Regions from separate parts of the Homo sapiens genome. Here region 1 is linked to region 2. A link means that fine-mapping ties the variant in region 2 to the expression of a gene that starts in the linked region. Tissue or cell type: fibroblasts. Region 2 holds a variant in brackets; the other region holds the start of a gene. All regions are shown on one strand. Distances are from middle to middle.

Region 1 (8,103 bases), 34 kb after region 2:
AACTTCAGCATAAATCAGAATCCACTGGAGCACTTGTTAAAATACAGATTCCTGGGTCCCATCCTAGAAGTTCTGATTCAGTAGGTCTCGGGTGGGGCCCAATAATTTGCATTTTTTATAACTTCCCATATGCTGCTGATGCTTCAAAGGCCACATTTTAAGAAACACTGGAAAGAAACTAAAGCAAAACCAGGGGCAGCAGGTGATAATGCAGAATTGAGGAAAGGGATCTTTAGTTCATTTTGACTCAGCCCCTTCACAGAGTTTCTGATTTAATTGGCACTGTCTGGATTTGGTGAATCCCGGATCATTTTCCCTGCTTCACCTTGTCTTCCTCCTCCAACTTTCTTCTCTTTCTTTTCTTTTCTTTTCTTTTCTCTCTCTCTCTCCCCCTCCCTTTCTTTTTTTTGATGGAGTCTCGCACTGTCACCCAGGCTGGAGTACAGTGGCACAATCTCGGCTCACTGCAACCTTCACCTCCCAGGTTCAAGCAATTCTCCTGCCTCAAGTAGGTGGGACTACAGGCATGCGCCACCACACCCGGCTAATTTTTGTATTTTTAGTAGAGACGGGGGTTTCACCATGTTGGCTAGGCTGGTCTCGAACTCCTGACCTCAAGTGATCCACCTGCCTCAGCCTCCCAAAATGTTGGGATTACAGGCATGAGCCGCCACGCCCGGCCCCTCCTCCAACTTTCTGATCTTATTTTTCAGATGGTTCTCAGGGCTTCTCCACTTGAGACTGACTCTACCATCTTTCTCGTTCTCCTATCACAAAGCCACAGTTTCAGGACAAAGCCCTTTCCTGACCTCTTAGCTCCATTTCAGTGCCCTCTTCTCCCTCCCTGCCCCTGAGTTGCTTGCTGCTCCTCTATCCAGTATTAGCACCCCCAACTCCAGCAGTGACCTGTGGAAAGCTGGGCTCCAATTAGGGCCCACTCTTATCTAGCAGGGGTAGCCATTTCTGCTCCCAGGCAGTAGAGTCTGGCTCCACAAACATTGGCATGCTAATGACAGCCACCTGCTTGCCCCTGGGAAGTCTCTGTTTGTTGCAGCTTCTTTAAGGACATGGAAATACTGAAGCCACCTCATTTACATGCTTCTGTTCATTCCTTTACTCAACAAACATTGATTGAACACCTGCCAGACACCATGCTGGGCCCAAGGGACCCCACAAGGAAACATCAAACATGAGCACATACATGTTCATGGAAGCGCCCGGGAGTCCCAAATGACTCTTCATAAAGGGGAATCTTTTGGCTTCACTCATCAACGAGGACAGACATTCAAGGAAGAAAACTCACGAACTGACCACTCATGAGCCCTCTTGCCTCCTCAGCCCTTCCATCTCCCCTGTTCTTGGGAAGGTGACCCGGGACAAAGACTGAAAGGCATGATTTCAGGCCGGGTGCGGTGGCTCACACCTATAATCCCAGCACTTTGCAAGGCCGAGGCAGGTGGATCACGAGGTCAGGAGTTCAAGACCAGCCTAGCCAAGATGGTGAAACCCTGTCTCTACTGCAAATACAAAAAAAAAAAAAAAAAAAAAATAGCTGGGCGTGGTGGTGGGCGCTTATAGTCCCAGCTGCAGCAGAGAATTGCTTGAACCCAAGAGGCAGAGGTTGCAGTGAGTAGAGATCACGCCACTGCACTGCAGCCTGGATGACAGAGCACTCCGTCTCAAAAAAAAAATAAAAAAGGAAAAAAAAAGAAAGGCATGATCCCAGAGAGTTTCCAAACCTCTTTATTGAAATGAATGTTCTGATTCACACGTCTCAGTCGTCGGCCCACTGCACTGAGTGAGATAAGGTATGTAAAGCTAGTGAGCTAACACCTCTCTCCATATTGACACACATACACTCACCATGCATTGAAATACACTGACACACCAACACATGCCAACACACACATTGACACACAGATATACAGACACACAGCTAGCACACACTGACAATACACACGAACACACCGACACATCTACTCACACATCAAGACCAACACACACACTGACCCACACCCCACCGAAGGAGGCTGGAGGCCCAGGCCCCAGGAGGGACTTGTAGCCGCAGGTGGGCAGGTATTGGAGGAACCAAAGGGTCCCAGGAGACTTGAATTAAGCACTTAGTTCAGGTCTTCGAGGTTCAGCGTTTTGGAGGAGGAGGACGCAGTGAGGTTCTGGTAGTCTCTAGGGACAGGAGGGCCGAATGGGGCATATGGATGAGACACCAAGGATTCCGTGCTCAGGTGCCCCCAGCGCTGGGCCGGTAAGTACGGAGCTTCAGTCCGCGAGGAGTGCTAAGGCGGGCGGGGCAGTGCGTGGGGGATTCTCCCGGGAGACCCGCAGCCCTCCAGTCCCCTCCCGTTCCGGCAGCAGCTTTCTGCTCTGGCTTCCAAATTCTCCCCTTTTGTCCCACCACCACCCAAACCCCAAGTCCAGATCGGGGCTAGTGACCTCGGGGCCTTTCAGTCCACCACGCCCTAGCCTTTGCCAGGGAAGAGCCCTGTCCCAGACACCCAGCCTGGAAGCCGCCAGTCACCTCTGACTCCCCGCCCCCATGCGGTTGGGGCCCAAGCCTCACCGTGGTTCCTCAGATATAGCACTGGTCCCCCGTGTCACTGCCAACCCAGTCCAGGGCTCAGGCCCTGCCCCAAAGCTCCAGAGAGTCTGAAAGACTCCAGCTGCCCCTCTTCCTTGCCACCGCCATCCGCCCTATGGCCTGCGCCTTCTGTCTCGCGGAGCTCCTCTGCGCTGATCCCTGATTTTGCCAGGCTCTTCTCTTTAGGCCGCTCCTGGGTCTCCAGCACAATGAAGGCGCACAGTGGCGCTCCCTGAATACTTGGCTCTTCATGACTGTCCTTACTGCTATTCCCTCACTGTGTCTCTTCTTTCTTCTCCCCGCCCCCCTCGCACGCATCCAAGTTCTCTGCCCTCAGCTTAATAGAGTGCCTCCTGACTGCGAGGCCCTGCACTCGGCCCTGGGATGCGTTTGCTGAGTCCTTGTTCTCCAGGCGCACAGGGTACATACATAAAGGGCTTCCCGAGAGAGTGTGAGAAGCTCCATCCAGCAGGTGGAACCAAGTGCCAGGCATGCTCTTCTTTGGCTACTCCATTTTCTTGTCTTCCCTGACTTCTCCGAGACCAGGGCCTCTGGATCGAGTCCCTTCTTCCTCTCTCTCCCTGGTTCCTTCTTTTCTTTTTCCCTCTCTCCTGCCTCCTCCTCAGCTGCTCCAGCCTTGGGCCTTTACGGGGTCATCTTCCATGCTCCATTGGGGCCCCCTCTTGGGCCCGGGTTTCCTCCATAGCCTTGTCATCCCCTCCCCCATCTGGGGTCCCTCTGGCGGGCCCAGGTCTCTCTCCCACACCAGGGAACCTGCCCTTTTGAGGAGTGGAATGTACTGTCCCTCCCGCTGGGGCCTCGGGCATGCCAAATCTGCCAGCGTGCTCCAGTGACAGGGAGCTAGCAAGAGGCCAGTCCCAAGAGAGAGGGGAGGGCGCCAAGGCCGGAGAAGTGGAGAGGTGCCCACGAGAGAGGACCCGCGGAGGTGGGCCACGGGGATAAGGAGGGCGGGCGGGCGCACCCCTGCCTTCGGAAGTTCTCTCCTCTGCGCCCTATTGGCCGCCTTGTCCCGGGCTGAATGAGGGTCAAGGAGAAATCAGGGGGCGGGACAGAGTGACTGGAGGCCGCTCCCCGTCACCCGCCCCTCCATTTCGCTCCATAGAGCTGAGAACCTTCATCTCCAGCCCTTCCTCTGGTACTAGAAGGGGTGGGTGGTCTTGCTGAGCGTCTAGGGCTGGGTCGGAGAGAGGAGGCGTGGGTTCCGTCTGTACTAGGTACCCAAAGGTGGTGAGCTTGGCTCCACGAAATTACAGCCCACAGCACCCAAGGCTTGGAAACCCCAGGGCAGAAGCAGCGTCTCAAGACCTCTAGCCTCGGACCCCACATGCCACAGCTCAGCTCAGTTGCCGGGCTGCAGTGCGGCTCCCCCCACGGGCCCCCTTTCTAAGCTCTACTGTGGAGCGGCAGGTGCCGCAGGCCTCCCCGGTACCTCGGCCGCAGCTGCGCTCCCGGGCCATGGAGGGAGGGAGACACGACAGTGGGGCATCGAGACTCCAGCGGCCAAGGCGCACCCATCTAAGCACCTTGGGATCTCGGTGGAAAGGAAGGGGGGTAACGGGGGCCGGGAGGAGAACTGCAGAGCTCGGCCGCTGAGCAGAGTATGGGAGGGGGGAGGGGCGGGGGCTCCCTTCCAGCCTTCGGGGTCTGGGGACTTAGGGATGTAAAGGAGAGCAGGGGGGTGTGACAATTCAGCAGAGGTCGGGACGTACCACGGAGCCAAGTGGCGGGGGGGGCAGAGGACGTGGTCACCGAGGGGAGCCCCCGCCCCCCTTCGTAGAAGCCTATGGCTGGGGTTGCAGGAAGAACTGGAACTGGTCTGGCCATAGGGGGAAGCGGCGCGTTAAATCCGCCCCCTCTCCATACCCTACTTTCAAGGGGTGGGCGGTAGAGGGGAGGTTGGGGTTGGAGCAGCGGCGAGGGGGCCCCTCCCTTGCACCTCCCCCCACCGGACTTGGTCGCGCCCGAAGTGTAACACTTTCTCTTTGTCGGAGGAGCTCCTCTGTTTCCTGTGCAGTAGCTCCCGTTGCGGCGGCACCCGTGGCAGCCCTGGCGGACGCAGGAGCGATGGCAGCGACCGATATAGCTCGCCAGGTGGTAAGTGCAGAGCTTGGGTGCCAGGGCCGGGGCCGAGGGCCTGGTGAGGGTCAAGGAGACCTGGCCGCCGCCGCCACATCGCGAGGAGGGCAGTGGGCAGCATCCAGGAGCCAAGGGCACGGTGGGACTTCTGCTCCCGGGGTCAGCAGCTCAGTCCCTCAGCCTGTCCCGGAAAACGGTGGTGGCGCGCGGGGGGCGGGGGGCGGCAGGGGGGCAGGCAAAACCTGCGGGCCGGCGGCTGAACTTGCATTGCCCAAGAGCCGCAGTGAGCGCCACCGCCTCCCTCGCTGCAGCTGCGGCCCCACGGCTGGGGCGTTGCCGAATGAATGGCCGTAGGAGCCGCCGAGCCCTCCGGGTCCCTGGCACCCTGGCCTTGCCGCGCCCCTGCGCACGGCTGCCCGTTGTGACCCGGGACCGCACAGGCAAAGAGGCGCGGGGCTGGGGTTAGCCTGGGGCAGAAGGCGGTGAGTGGCGAGGGGGGCGGGGAGGTGACTGGCTGGGATAGGGTTTCTCTATATGCATTACATATGTGACTGCGTCTGTGTGTGTATCGGTGTGCGCGTATGTGTGCACGCGCGCGCGCTCGTGTCTTCCCGGGCGGGCGGCGGCGGCGCCGGGGTTCTGTCTGTGACCCAAAGAAGTCCGCGTGTTTCTCTGAGTGTGCTCACCTCTGTGGTGTGTGTCCGAACGCCTCTCTGTCTGCTTGTGCTGTGTGCCTCTGGGTCTCATTTGTGCGTCAGTGTGGGGTGCAGTTGGCTGGCCTGTAGGTGGCTGGCTGCGTATTTTGGCATGTTTTGGAGCGGGCCTCTGAGGATCTGTCTCGGGTGCATGTTCAGTGTAACTGGGCTTGTGTGCCAAAACCTGTGGAGCTGGCTTCTTTCTATGGAGACTCAGGAAAATAAGTGTGAGACTCGCAAAAGCGGTGCCGTCTCTTTTTTTGTTGGCGACCGACTCTGGGAAAAAAAAAATCTTCATTTAAAGAACTGAAGTTTTCCAGCCTGGGATGTGCAGAGAAACCATGTTGAAGTGACCTGAGGCTCCATGTTTGTTTTTTAAACCAGAAGTTTGGTTGCAAAGGGCGATGAATTCCATTTGGGGGGGACACCCTAGCTATTCTATTCATCCATGGGTATCTGGGACTTTAATAAGCCCACCAGCACCCCGAGGTGAGGAAGGAGTGGGAGACAGAGGTAGGTCAAATCCCATGACACCACATACTACTTGACGAAAATCTCTGAACCACATAAAAATGTTTTTCAACCTTGTAGCTTACTTATTTAGGAAAATAGTTCATGCAATGCAACTACAGTACAAAAAAAAAGCCTCTAGGTATTTGGTGTAATTGAAATTGATTTTACAAAATCTGAAGCCAGAATCTGATAATATTTTCTCTACAGAATATGTATTAATGTCTCTTTTGTCCCTGTTTGGAAGGGCAGGATCATTTCTTCGGAACCTCCTCCACCCCCTGCACACCCTAGCACAGAGCACTTTATGCAGTCATGTTGTGGAAGGACCAGGAGTAGACAGGGGACATTCTCTGTGATGATGCAATTTGAGAGAATTTTCTTCCCCCAAGATTGGCACTCTCGTTGTTTATTGCTTTAGTGTTTTGAGGGCTCCCTCTTTTCTGCTGTGGCTTTTCTGCTCCTGGTTACCTGCATTTCAGAGATGGTATAGCTGAAGTAGAGGAATTAATCTCTGGGATTACACTAGCTCCATCCAAAAATGACGCTAATGATTTTTCATGTCAGCTAATGAATTTGCATCGACCTGTCCTCCATACTCTCACCAGTTTCTCTTGCCTGGATTAGGATTGCAGGGCAGATGTTGCAATGGGGAACATTCCAGAAGGTTGTGTGTGTTTCACCTCAGGCACAACTCAGGCAACCTAGAGATGCCCTTTGTTCTGCAGATGGGGGTGAGGGGGTGCTTTAGGGCCACTTGGTTTGCTTTGCATGGCTCCAGTTTGCTCTGGCTGGCCTTGCCATACTGTATGATGAAGAACATAATTGTACGCCAGATTCTGAAGCTGAAAGAGCAGCCTAAGCACTCGAGACCTTGTTATCGTGATAAATGGGTTTCTGGGAAAACTGACGTCACTCTCCATGCCCCCCTCCCCCAGCCAGTGAAGCTCCTGTTTATGTGTCATTTGTCTCTCTGTTCTCCTTTGTGTCTGCAATAAGTTGTAATTCACCAGGGAAGACGGAGTTAACTCAGGAGACCTTGGACATCTGGTTGCTGCTTGTTTCCTCCAAGGAACATGTATTCAGGGTTTGGGAACAGAAGACTAGAGAATAAACCTAAGTGTGGCTAGCTTAGGAATTCTTTTTTTTTTTTTTTTTTTTTTTTGAGACGGAGTCTTGCTCTGTTGCCCAGGCTGGAGTGCAAGTGGCATGATCTCGGCTCACTGCAACCTCAGCCTCCCAGGTTCAAGCGATTCTCCTGCCTCAGCCTCCCGAGTAGCTGGGATTACAGGCACCCGCCACCACACCTGGCTAGTTTTGATATTTTTAGTAGAGGGGGGTTTTCACCATGTTGGCCAGGCTGGTCTCGAACTCCTGACCTTGTGATCCACCCGCCTCAGCCTCCCAAAGTGTTGGGATTACAGGCATGAGCCACTGCTCCCGGCCAGGAATTCTTTTTAATGAGCTCTGAGACGTGGTACCATGCGAGTAAGTGCCCTAGTGTGTGTGTGTGTGTGTGTGTGTGTGTGTGTGTGTGTGTATGTGTATGTATGTGGGGGGTGTGTTCTTTCTAGAATCAGTTGAGAGTCACTGTGGGTAAACATCCTTAGTGACTAAAACAAGCCTTCAAGTTGTTGGGTAGGGCTTACATTGCACGCAGCCAACTTGGAAGTTCAATTCTGGTGCACATAATACAAGTCCGTCCCATTTGAATGAACACCACAAACGGTTTGGTGTGACAACACCATTTCTCCACTGTGTCCATATTTACTTGATTGACTGATATGTGGCCAGCACTATGGTTAGCCCTTGTCAACTGGACAAAAAAAGGTAGCAGGCTTTAAAAAACGTTCGTGATCGGACTGGGCTTGGTGGCTCATGCCTGTAATCCCAGCACTTTGGGAGGCTGAGGTGGGCAGATCATGAGGTCAGGAGTTCGAGACCAGCCTGGCCAACATGGTGAAACCCCGTATCTACTAAAAATACAAAAATTAGCCAGGCGTGGTGGTGCGTGCCTGTAATCACAGCTACTCAGGAGGCTGAGGCAGAAGAATCGCTTGAACCCTGGAGGCAGAGGTTGCAGTGAGCCAAGATTGCACCACTGCACTCCAGCCTGGGCAACAGAGCGAGACTCCATCTCAAAAAAGAAAAAAAAGAGGCCGAGGTGGGTGGATCACAAAGTCAGGAGATCGAGACCAGCCTGGC
Region 2 (8,103 bases):
TCCAGCAGTTGGGTCTGAGTCCTCACCTTACTGGACCCTCTCAGCAGCATTGGACATTGTCGATCACCCCATCCTCCTTGCAACTCCTGCTTCCCTTGGCTTCTGGGACACCCAGCTCTCCTGGTTTTCCTTTGAGCTCCCTAGCCAGTCAGTCATTCCTCAGTGCCTTCCTTCTGCTGGTCCTGCTGGCTCCATCCTCTAGAGTCTGGAGATTGGGGAGCCATGGGGCTCGGACCTCGTCCACTTGTCTCTATGTACTCGCTCCCTTGAGAATCTCATCTCATCCAGGTCTTTCAATGACCCCTCTGCACAGACGCCTGCTGCTCCGATCCTTCCTCTGAATTCCAGACACACAGATCCAGCTGCTGTCCAGCAGCCTGCTGACAGCTCCCCTTGGAGCTCTAATAAGCTTCTCAAACTTAGCCCATCCATAGTGAAGTCTTCCTAGTTGCTTGGGTGAAAATCTGCCAGCCATCTAAATGCCTCTCTTTCCTCTCACATCTCAACACAGTCTCAGCAAACACTTCCTGCCCTTCTTAGAATGAGATCCCCACTCCTTGCCATGGCTCACAAGGTCCTCCATGAAAACATGACTGAGTCTTCTGCAATCTCACCTCCTCCCTCTCCTACCAACTTCATCCCCACCCCGACCTGCACTGAGGATGCTCCAGTCCTCCACCACCCCGCCTCTGGCTCCTTGATCACACCGAACACTCTCCCACCTCAGGGCCTTTGCACCTGTAGTTCCCTCTGCCTCGTGTGATCTTTCCCAGTTCACTCATGAAGCAGGCTCCCCCACTTCATTCAGTCCTGCTCCAATGTCACCTGCTCAGGGAAGGCCTCCCTGACCACCCTGTTGAAAATAACACCCTCTGGTCCCTCTCTGTTCCCATCCCCTGCTTTGTTTTTATCCAGAGGCATCTCGTACTTGCATTTGCTTCAAATCTACCTCCCTAGAAAGTAAGCTCCATAATTTTAGGGACTTGGTGTTTTTCACTACCGTCATTGTCACCACCCAGCACAGTATGTGACACATATGTGTTGAATCAGAGAATGAATGAATCTAAGCATGTTGCTCTCCTCGCTTAAAATCCCGAGATGCTCCATCACATCTCCGTGCTTTTGCCCATGCTGTTCCCTCTGCTCAGAATGTCCTTCCCCTTCCTAGCCTGCCTGGAAAACTTTTAGTCATCCCTCAAGACCAGAGCCCACTGTCGCCACCTTTGTGAAGCCCCTAGTTGCTGTAAGAGACACCTATATTTAGGCCGGGCACGGTGGCTCATGTCTGTAATCCCAGCACTTTGGGAGGCTGAGGTGGGCGGATCACCTGAGGTCGGGAGTTTGAGACCAGCCTGACGAACATGGAAAAACCCCGTCTCTACTAAAAGTACAAAATTAGCTGGGCATGGTGGCGCATGCCTGTAATCCCAGCTACTCAGGAGGCTGAGGCAGGAGAATCGCTTGAACCCAGGAGGTGGAGGTTGCAGTGAGCCAAGATCGCACCATTGCACTCCAGCCTGGGCAACAAGAGCAAAACTCCATCTCAAAAAAAAAAAAAAAAAAAAAAAAGAAAGAAAGAATAAAAAAGAGAGACACCTATATTTTCTCCTCTATATTAAAACAAAACAAAACAAAACAAAATTCAACTCCAATCATGTTTCCCTTGCCTCTCCCAGGCAACACCTCAACACCTTTTCTGGAGGGAAATTACTGTACCAGAAAAGATAGTTAATTTTAAAAAAAAGTTTTTTTTGAGACAGAGTCTCGCTGTGTTGCTAGGCTGGAGTGCAGTGGTGCAATCTCAGCTCACTGCACCCTCCACCTCCCGGGTTCAAGCAATTCTCCTGCCTCAGCCTCTCAAGTAGCTGGGACTACAGGTGCGTGCCACCACGCCCAGCTAATTTTTGTATTTTTATTAGAGACAGGGTTTCACTGTGTTGGCCAGGCTGGTCTCGAACTCCTGATCTCATGATCCGCCTGCCTCGGCCTCCCAAAGTACTGGGATTACAGGCGTGTGTCGCAGCACCGGGCCTTTTATTTATTTGTTTATTTTTTCAAATAACGGGGAACCTGGAGGCAGAAACTTGGTGAGTCACAAGGGGGCAGCAAAGTGTTCCCACTCGGAGGAAGGCTACAAAGCCTTTCATCATCAGCTAGCAGCAACAATCGGTTTAAACCATGTAGCAATAAAGGATTAGCCACTGGATTTAGTAACAACTGGTCATCACCCACTCCAGTGTCAGTATTTGAAAAAGAAATAGGATTGTAAAATCTCAGCTCAGCCATTTCGTATACGCCCTTGGGCCAATCGCAATCTATTTGACCCTGGTTTCCTCATCTGTAAACTAGGGATACCTGCTTCCGAATGTCACTTCCTCATATGGTTGTCTTGATAATTAACTAGGATGATGAAGGTAATAGATGAGCTGCCTGGAGTGTAGTAAGTGTTCATATGTAAAATACTATTATTACCATATAAAGAACCAAGGGAACTGAGTGTTGCTGAATACCTAGTACGGGCAAAGGCACTTTGAATCCTTAATCAAGTGATGAATGATGAGAAGTTAAATGAGAGGTTGAATGACAAAGTGAGAGGTTAAGTGACATGCCCAAGGCCACATAGCTAGCAACAACAATAGCGGTTCACACCTAGCAGGTACTTACTATGTGCCATGCCAGGCAACCACAGTTCTAAGTACTTTGCATCTTTGCATGAGCAATTTTTTTTTTTTTTTGAGACAGGGTCTCACTCTGTCTCCCAGGCTGGCGTGCAGGGGTGCGATCTCAGATCACTGCAACCTCTGCCTCTTGGACTCAAGTAATCCACCCACCTCAGCCTCCCGAGTAGCTGGGACCACAGACACTTGCCACTATGCCTGGCTCATTTTTTAGTATTTTTTGTAGAGACGGCGTTTCGCCATGTTGCCCAGGCTGGGAGCTATCTCCCTTCTTACAATGATCCCGAGAAAAGAATTTTTATCTGAGGAATGCAGGTCAGGCCGGGAGAGACATTAAAATGAGACTGAAATCAGGCCCTACTCCCCACTTTGAACTGTGTATTCATCTCTTGAAATTGCTTGCTATTGCCATAAATAGCTATAAATTAACCCAATAATGCCACACCAGACACTACAACCCACAGTCTGTAGCTTAACAATGTTATTTCTGTAAATCAATGAGAATTCCTGACAAACAACTTTGCATCAGTCCACTCCTTGTCCCCTACTTTTGCCTTCAAAACTCCACCTGTAACTGCTAGTAATTGAAGTGTACATTCAGGGAAACTTGACTTTCTGCTCTCAGGTTGCAATCTTCAAGCTTGGCCCACATAAACTCTCTACTTACATTAATTTTGCCCAAGCTGCTTCTTTTTAGGTCGACAATCCTATGGAGTATGTACCCTTATTATGCCCATTTGAAAGAAGACTGAGGCACAAATAACTGGGCTAAAGTCACGCTGTGGAGTGTGGAGCTGGGCTAAGAGCGGAGGCAGTCTGGCTCCTGAGCCAGGGCTCTCGCTGCCCTGCCACCTGGCGGAGATGAGATCAAGCTGAGGAAAGCTTGTCATGGTCAAGATGAGGAAAAACTCAAGCCCTTTCCACCACCCTAGGCTGCTTTGAAACTAGCTTGCCTCAAA[G/T]CCTGCTCCAGACTATTGAAAAACAAAACCAACACTCCCCCACCTCAACCCCATTATGCCCCTCTTCAGCCACTGGTTTCTCCCTCTTCCCCATCATAACTGCACTTTCTTCGTGGCTCACTGCAATCTCCGCCTCCTGGGTTTAAGCGATTCTCGTGTCTCAGCCTCCCAAGTAGCTGGGATTACAGGCGAGTGCCACCACGCCCAGCTAATTTTTGTATTTTTAGTAGAGATGGATTTTTGCCATGTTGGCCAGGCTGGTCTCGAACTCCTGACCTCAGGTGATCTGCTCTCCTCGGCTTCCCAAAGTGCTGGGATTACAGATGTGGGCCACTGTGCCGGGCCAAGAATAAGAAATTGATTGTAAGGCCAGGCACGGTGGCTCACGCCTGTAATCCCAGCACTTTGGGAGGCTGAGGTGGGCGGATCACGAGGTCAGGAGTTCGCGATCAGCCTGGCCAATGTGGTGAAACCTCGTCTCTACTAAAAATACAAAAATTAGCTGGGTGTTGTGGCGTGCACCTGTAGTCCCAGCTTAGTTGGGAGACTGAGGCAGGAGAATTGCTTGAACCCGGGAGGCGGAGGTTGCAGTGAGCCAAGATCGCGCCACTGCACTCCAGCCTGGGCAACAGAGCAAGACTCTGTTTCAAAAAAAAAAAAAGGCCAGGCGCGGTGGCTCATGCTTGTAATCCCAGCACTTTGGGAGGCTGAGGCGGGCAGATCACGAGGTCAGGAGATCGAGACCACGGTGAAACCCCGTCTCTACTAAAAATACAAAAAAAAAAAAAAAAATTAGCTGGGCGCGGTGGTGGGCGCCTGTAGTCCCAGCTACTGGGAATGGCGTGAACCCGGGAGGCGGAGCTTGCAGTGAGCCGAGATTGCGCCACTGCACTGCAGCCTGGGTGACAGAGCGAGACTCCGTCTTAAAAAAAAAAAAAAAAGAATTGATCGTAAGTTAACTGAAAGTTATAAGCTAAAGAAAAAATGTGTCTGAAGTTAGCCTTGTCAGGTGTAAGTCTGAATCCCCACGTCCTACCCCTGCCCAGCAGTGGAACAAGGAGAGGCAGGGCCCCTACCCGGGCTCCTGCAACTAGAGGAGCTTAGCAGGATGAGTCAAGGAGCAAGTCCAAACTGAAATTCATTAGAGAGAAGCTGCAAATTAAGCCTCAAGGAGACCAAGGGCAAATGCTAAAACAAAGAGTCAGACACCAGACCACAAACGGATGCAAAGCTAGGCTATGAAGCTGAGAGTTTATTGTCAGCCAGAGACACAGTCAGGCGAATGTAAGTCATACACAAGCAAGGAAGATCCAGGGCAATGCGATCAAACAATCTTAGGGCAGGTTCTTGGTGCTTTAGGTGTGTTGGGGTGTTTTAAAGTCTGCATTCAGGGCAGGCAGGTTAGCACTGCAGTGGAGATGATACATCAGGCTATCATTGCTTGCTGTCTTTCGACATTAGAGCCATCCAGCTAGGCACTTTGCTCTGGTTCTGTGGTCACTAAGCAACTTCTTGATTAAAATGTGGCCTCCCACGTAGGTGTGCTTTACTGAGAGATAATGGGCTGGCTAGCCAGCATGAGTAGTCCTTCTCTCCTGGCCTTTATTTCTCACTGTAATGTTTTCTCAAAATGAAATATACTTGATTACATTCTCTTATTACAAAAGTAATATATGCTAATTATAGAAAATATAGACAGGCAAAAAGGGAGCATAAAGATCATCCATAATCCTCCAATCCAGAACAACTACTGTTAAGAGCTTCATATTAGTTGTTTTTTTTTGTTTGTTTTTGTTTTGTTTTGTTTTGTTTTGAGACAGGATCTTGCTGTCACCCAGGCTGGCATGCTGTGGTGTGATCTCAGGTAACTGCAACCTCTGCTTCCCGGGTTCAAGTGATTCTCCTGCCTCAGCCTCCAGAGTAGCTGGGACTACAGGCACGTACCACCATGCTTGGCTAGTTTCTTTTGTATTTTTAGTAGACACGAAGTCTCACCATGTTGGCCAGGCTGGTCTTCAACTCCTGGCCTCAAGTGATCCGCCTGACTCGGCCTCTCAAAGTGCTGGGATTACAGGGGTGAGCCACTGCTCCTGGCCAGATGCTTTTTTTTTTTTTTTTTGAGACAAGTCTCGCTCTGTTGCCCAGGCTGGAGTGCAGTGGCGCAATCTCAGCTCACTGCAACCTCCGCCTCCCGGGTTCAAGCAATTCTCCTGCCTCAGCACCCCCTAGTAGCTGGGATTACAGGCATGTGTCACCACACCTGGCTATTTTTTGTATTTTTAGTAGAGATGGGGTTTCACCATGTTGGCCAGGCTGGTCTCGAACTCCTGACCTCAGATGATCCACCTGCCTTGGCCTCCCAAAGTGCTGGGATTACAGGTGTGAGCCACCGTGCCTGGCTGATCCTTCTTATATGTATATTTACCTACAGCACATATACGTATGGTCATATACACATATTTACTATTGGTATTCTATCTTTTCCTTTTTTTGATTTAAAACTTCTTCAATTATGCAATGATACCTGAGTACATTTTCTTTCTTTCTTTCTTTTTTTTTTTTTTTGAGACGGAGTTTTGCTCTTGTTGCCCAGGCTGGAGTGCAATGGCGCGATCTCGGCTCACCACAACCCCCGCCTCCTGGGTTCAAGGGATTCTCCTGCCTCAGCCTCCTGAGTAGCTAGGATTACAGGCATGCTCCACCACACCGGGCTAATTTTTTGTATTTTTAGTAGAGACAGGGTTTCTCCATGTTGGTCAGGCTGGTCTCGAACTTCTGACCTCAGGTGATCTGCCTGCCTCAGCCTCCCAAACTGCTGGGATTCCAGGCGTGAGCCGCTGCGCCCAGCTTATGAGTACATCTTCATAAAATACTTTAAAAAATATTTTAATTAAGAGGGGGGTGGGTCTTGCTATTGTTGCCCAGACTGGTTTCGAACTCCTGGGCTCAAGCAATCCTCCCACCATAGCTTCCCAAGCAGCTGGGATTACAGGTGTGTATCACCATGGCCTCGCAAAATTTTAAGATGATATAGAATCATGTAGAGTAAAATATTAAGGACCTCCAAAACAACTCATAGTAAATAGCTTTGTATTTATCCTTGCAGTTTTTTTATGCATTTATATATCAATATTACATACTATTAAAATAGAAGACCTAGTATCTTACTATCATACTTTAAAAAAATTTTTTTTTTTTTTTTTGAGATGGAGTCTTGCTCTGTTGCCAGGCTGGAGTGTAGTGGTGCGATCTTGGCTCACTGCAACCTCCCCCTCCTGGGTTCAAGCGAGTCTCCTGCCTCAGCCTCCTGAGTAACTGGGATTACAGGCACCCACCATCACACCTGGCTAATTTTTGTATTTTTATTAGAGACAGGGTTTCACCATGTTGGCCAGCTCTGGTTTCGAACTCTTGACCTCAGGTGATCTGCCCGCCTTGGCCTCTGAAAATGCTGGGATTACTGGCGTGAGACACTGCGCCTGGCCCCATCATACTTTTTAGTAACTGCCTATTTTTACTAAAGATTCTATCATGAACATCTAATCACATCAATAAATACAATTTACATTATCATTTTTAAAGGCCACACAGTATTCTATTGTATGAATGCACCACGATTTATTTATTTATTTATTTATTTATTGAGATGCAGTCTCGCGCTGTCACCAGGCTGGAGTGCAGTGGTGTGATCTCGGCTCACTGCAACAACCTCCGCCTCCAAGGTTCAAGGGATTCTCCTGCCTTAGCCTCCCGAGCAGCTGGGACTACAGGTGCATGCCACCACGTCTGGCTCATTTTTTGTATTTTTAGTAGAGACAGGGTTTCACCATGTTGGCCAGGATGGTCTTGAACTCCAGACCTCATGATCCGCCTGCCTCGGCCTCCCAAAGTGCTGGGATTACAGGCGTGAGCCACCACGCCCTACCCTGATTTATTTAATTAATGAAATAATTTGGAAATTTGTCCCCACCCAAATCTTATGTTGAATTTTAATCCCCAATGTTGGAGGTGGGGCCTGGTGGGGTATTTGGGTTATGGGGTGGATCCCTTCATGGCTTGGTGCTGTCCTCGTGATAGTGAGTTCTCACAAGATCTGGTTGTTGTAAAGTGTGGCACCTTCCCCTGCCCTTTCTATTTCCTCACTCCTGCTCCCGCCATGTGAGACACCTGCTCCCACTTTGCCTTTTTCCACGAGTTAAAATGCTCCCTAAAGCTTTCCCAAAGCCTAGCAGATGCCAGTGCCACACTTCCTGTACAGCCTGCAGAATTGTGAGCCAATAAGACCTCTTTTTTTTTATATAAATTACCCAGTTCCAGGTATTTCTTTATAGCAACACAAGAATGGCCTAATACAACTAATATCCTAATTTTTTATTTTTTATTTTTATTTTTTGAGACAAGGTCTTTTTCTGCCACTCAGGCTGGAGTGCAGTGGCACTCACTGCAGCCTTGAACTCCTGGGCTCA

Evidence for each region. PIP is the estimated chance that this variant, and not a neighbour inherited with it, causes the effect.
Region 1: SEPTIN6 starts here. The variant in region 2 is fine-mapped to the expression of SEPTIN6 in fibroblasts (GTEx, PIP above 0.99).

What each region holds. Positions count from the first base shown.
Region 1 is chrX:119,689,684-119,697,786 of GRCh38, reverse strand. It overlaps SEPTIN6 (septin 6), which reads left to right and starts at 4,619. Exons shown (of 11, transcript NM_145799.4): 1 at 4,619-4,711. The coding sequence starts at 4,682. RefSeq lists enhancers at 998-1,057, 4,606-4,735, 5,556-5,605 and silencers at 4,376-4,425, 4,936-5,065.
Region 2 is chrX:119,724,104-119,732,206 of GRCh38, reverse strand. No RefSeq gene overlaps it. Among named protein-coding and RNA genes, the nearest start is that of SOWAHD, 30 kb to the left of the region's middle. The variant G/T (reference allele first, on the strand shown) is at 3,638.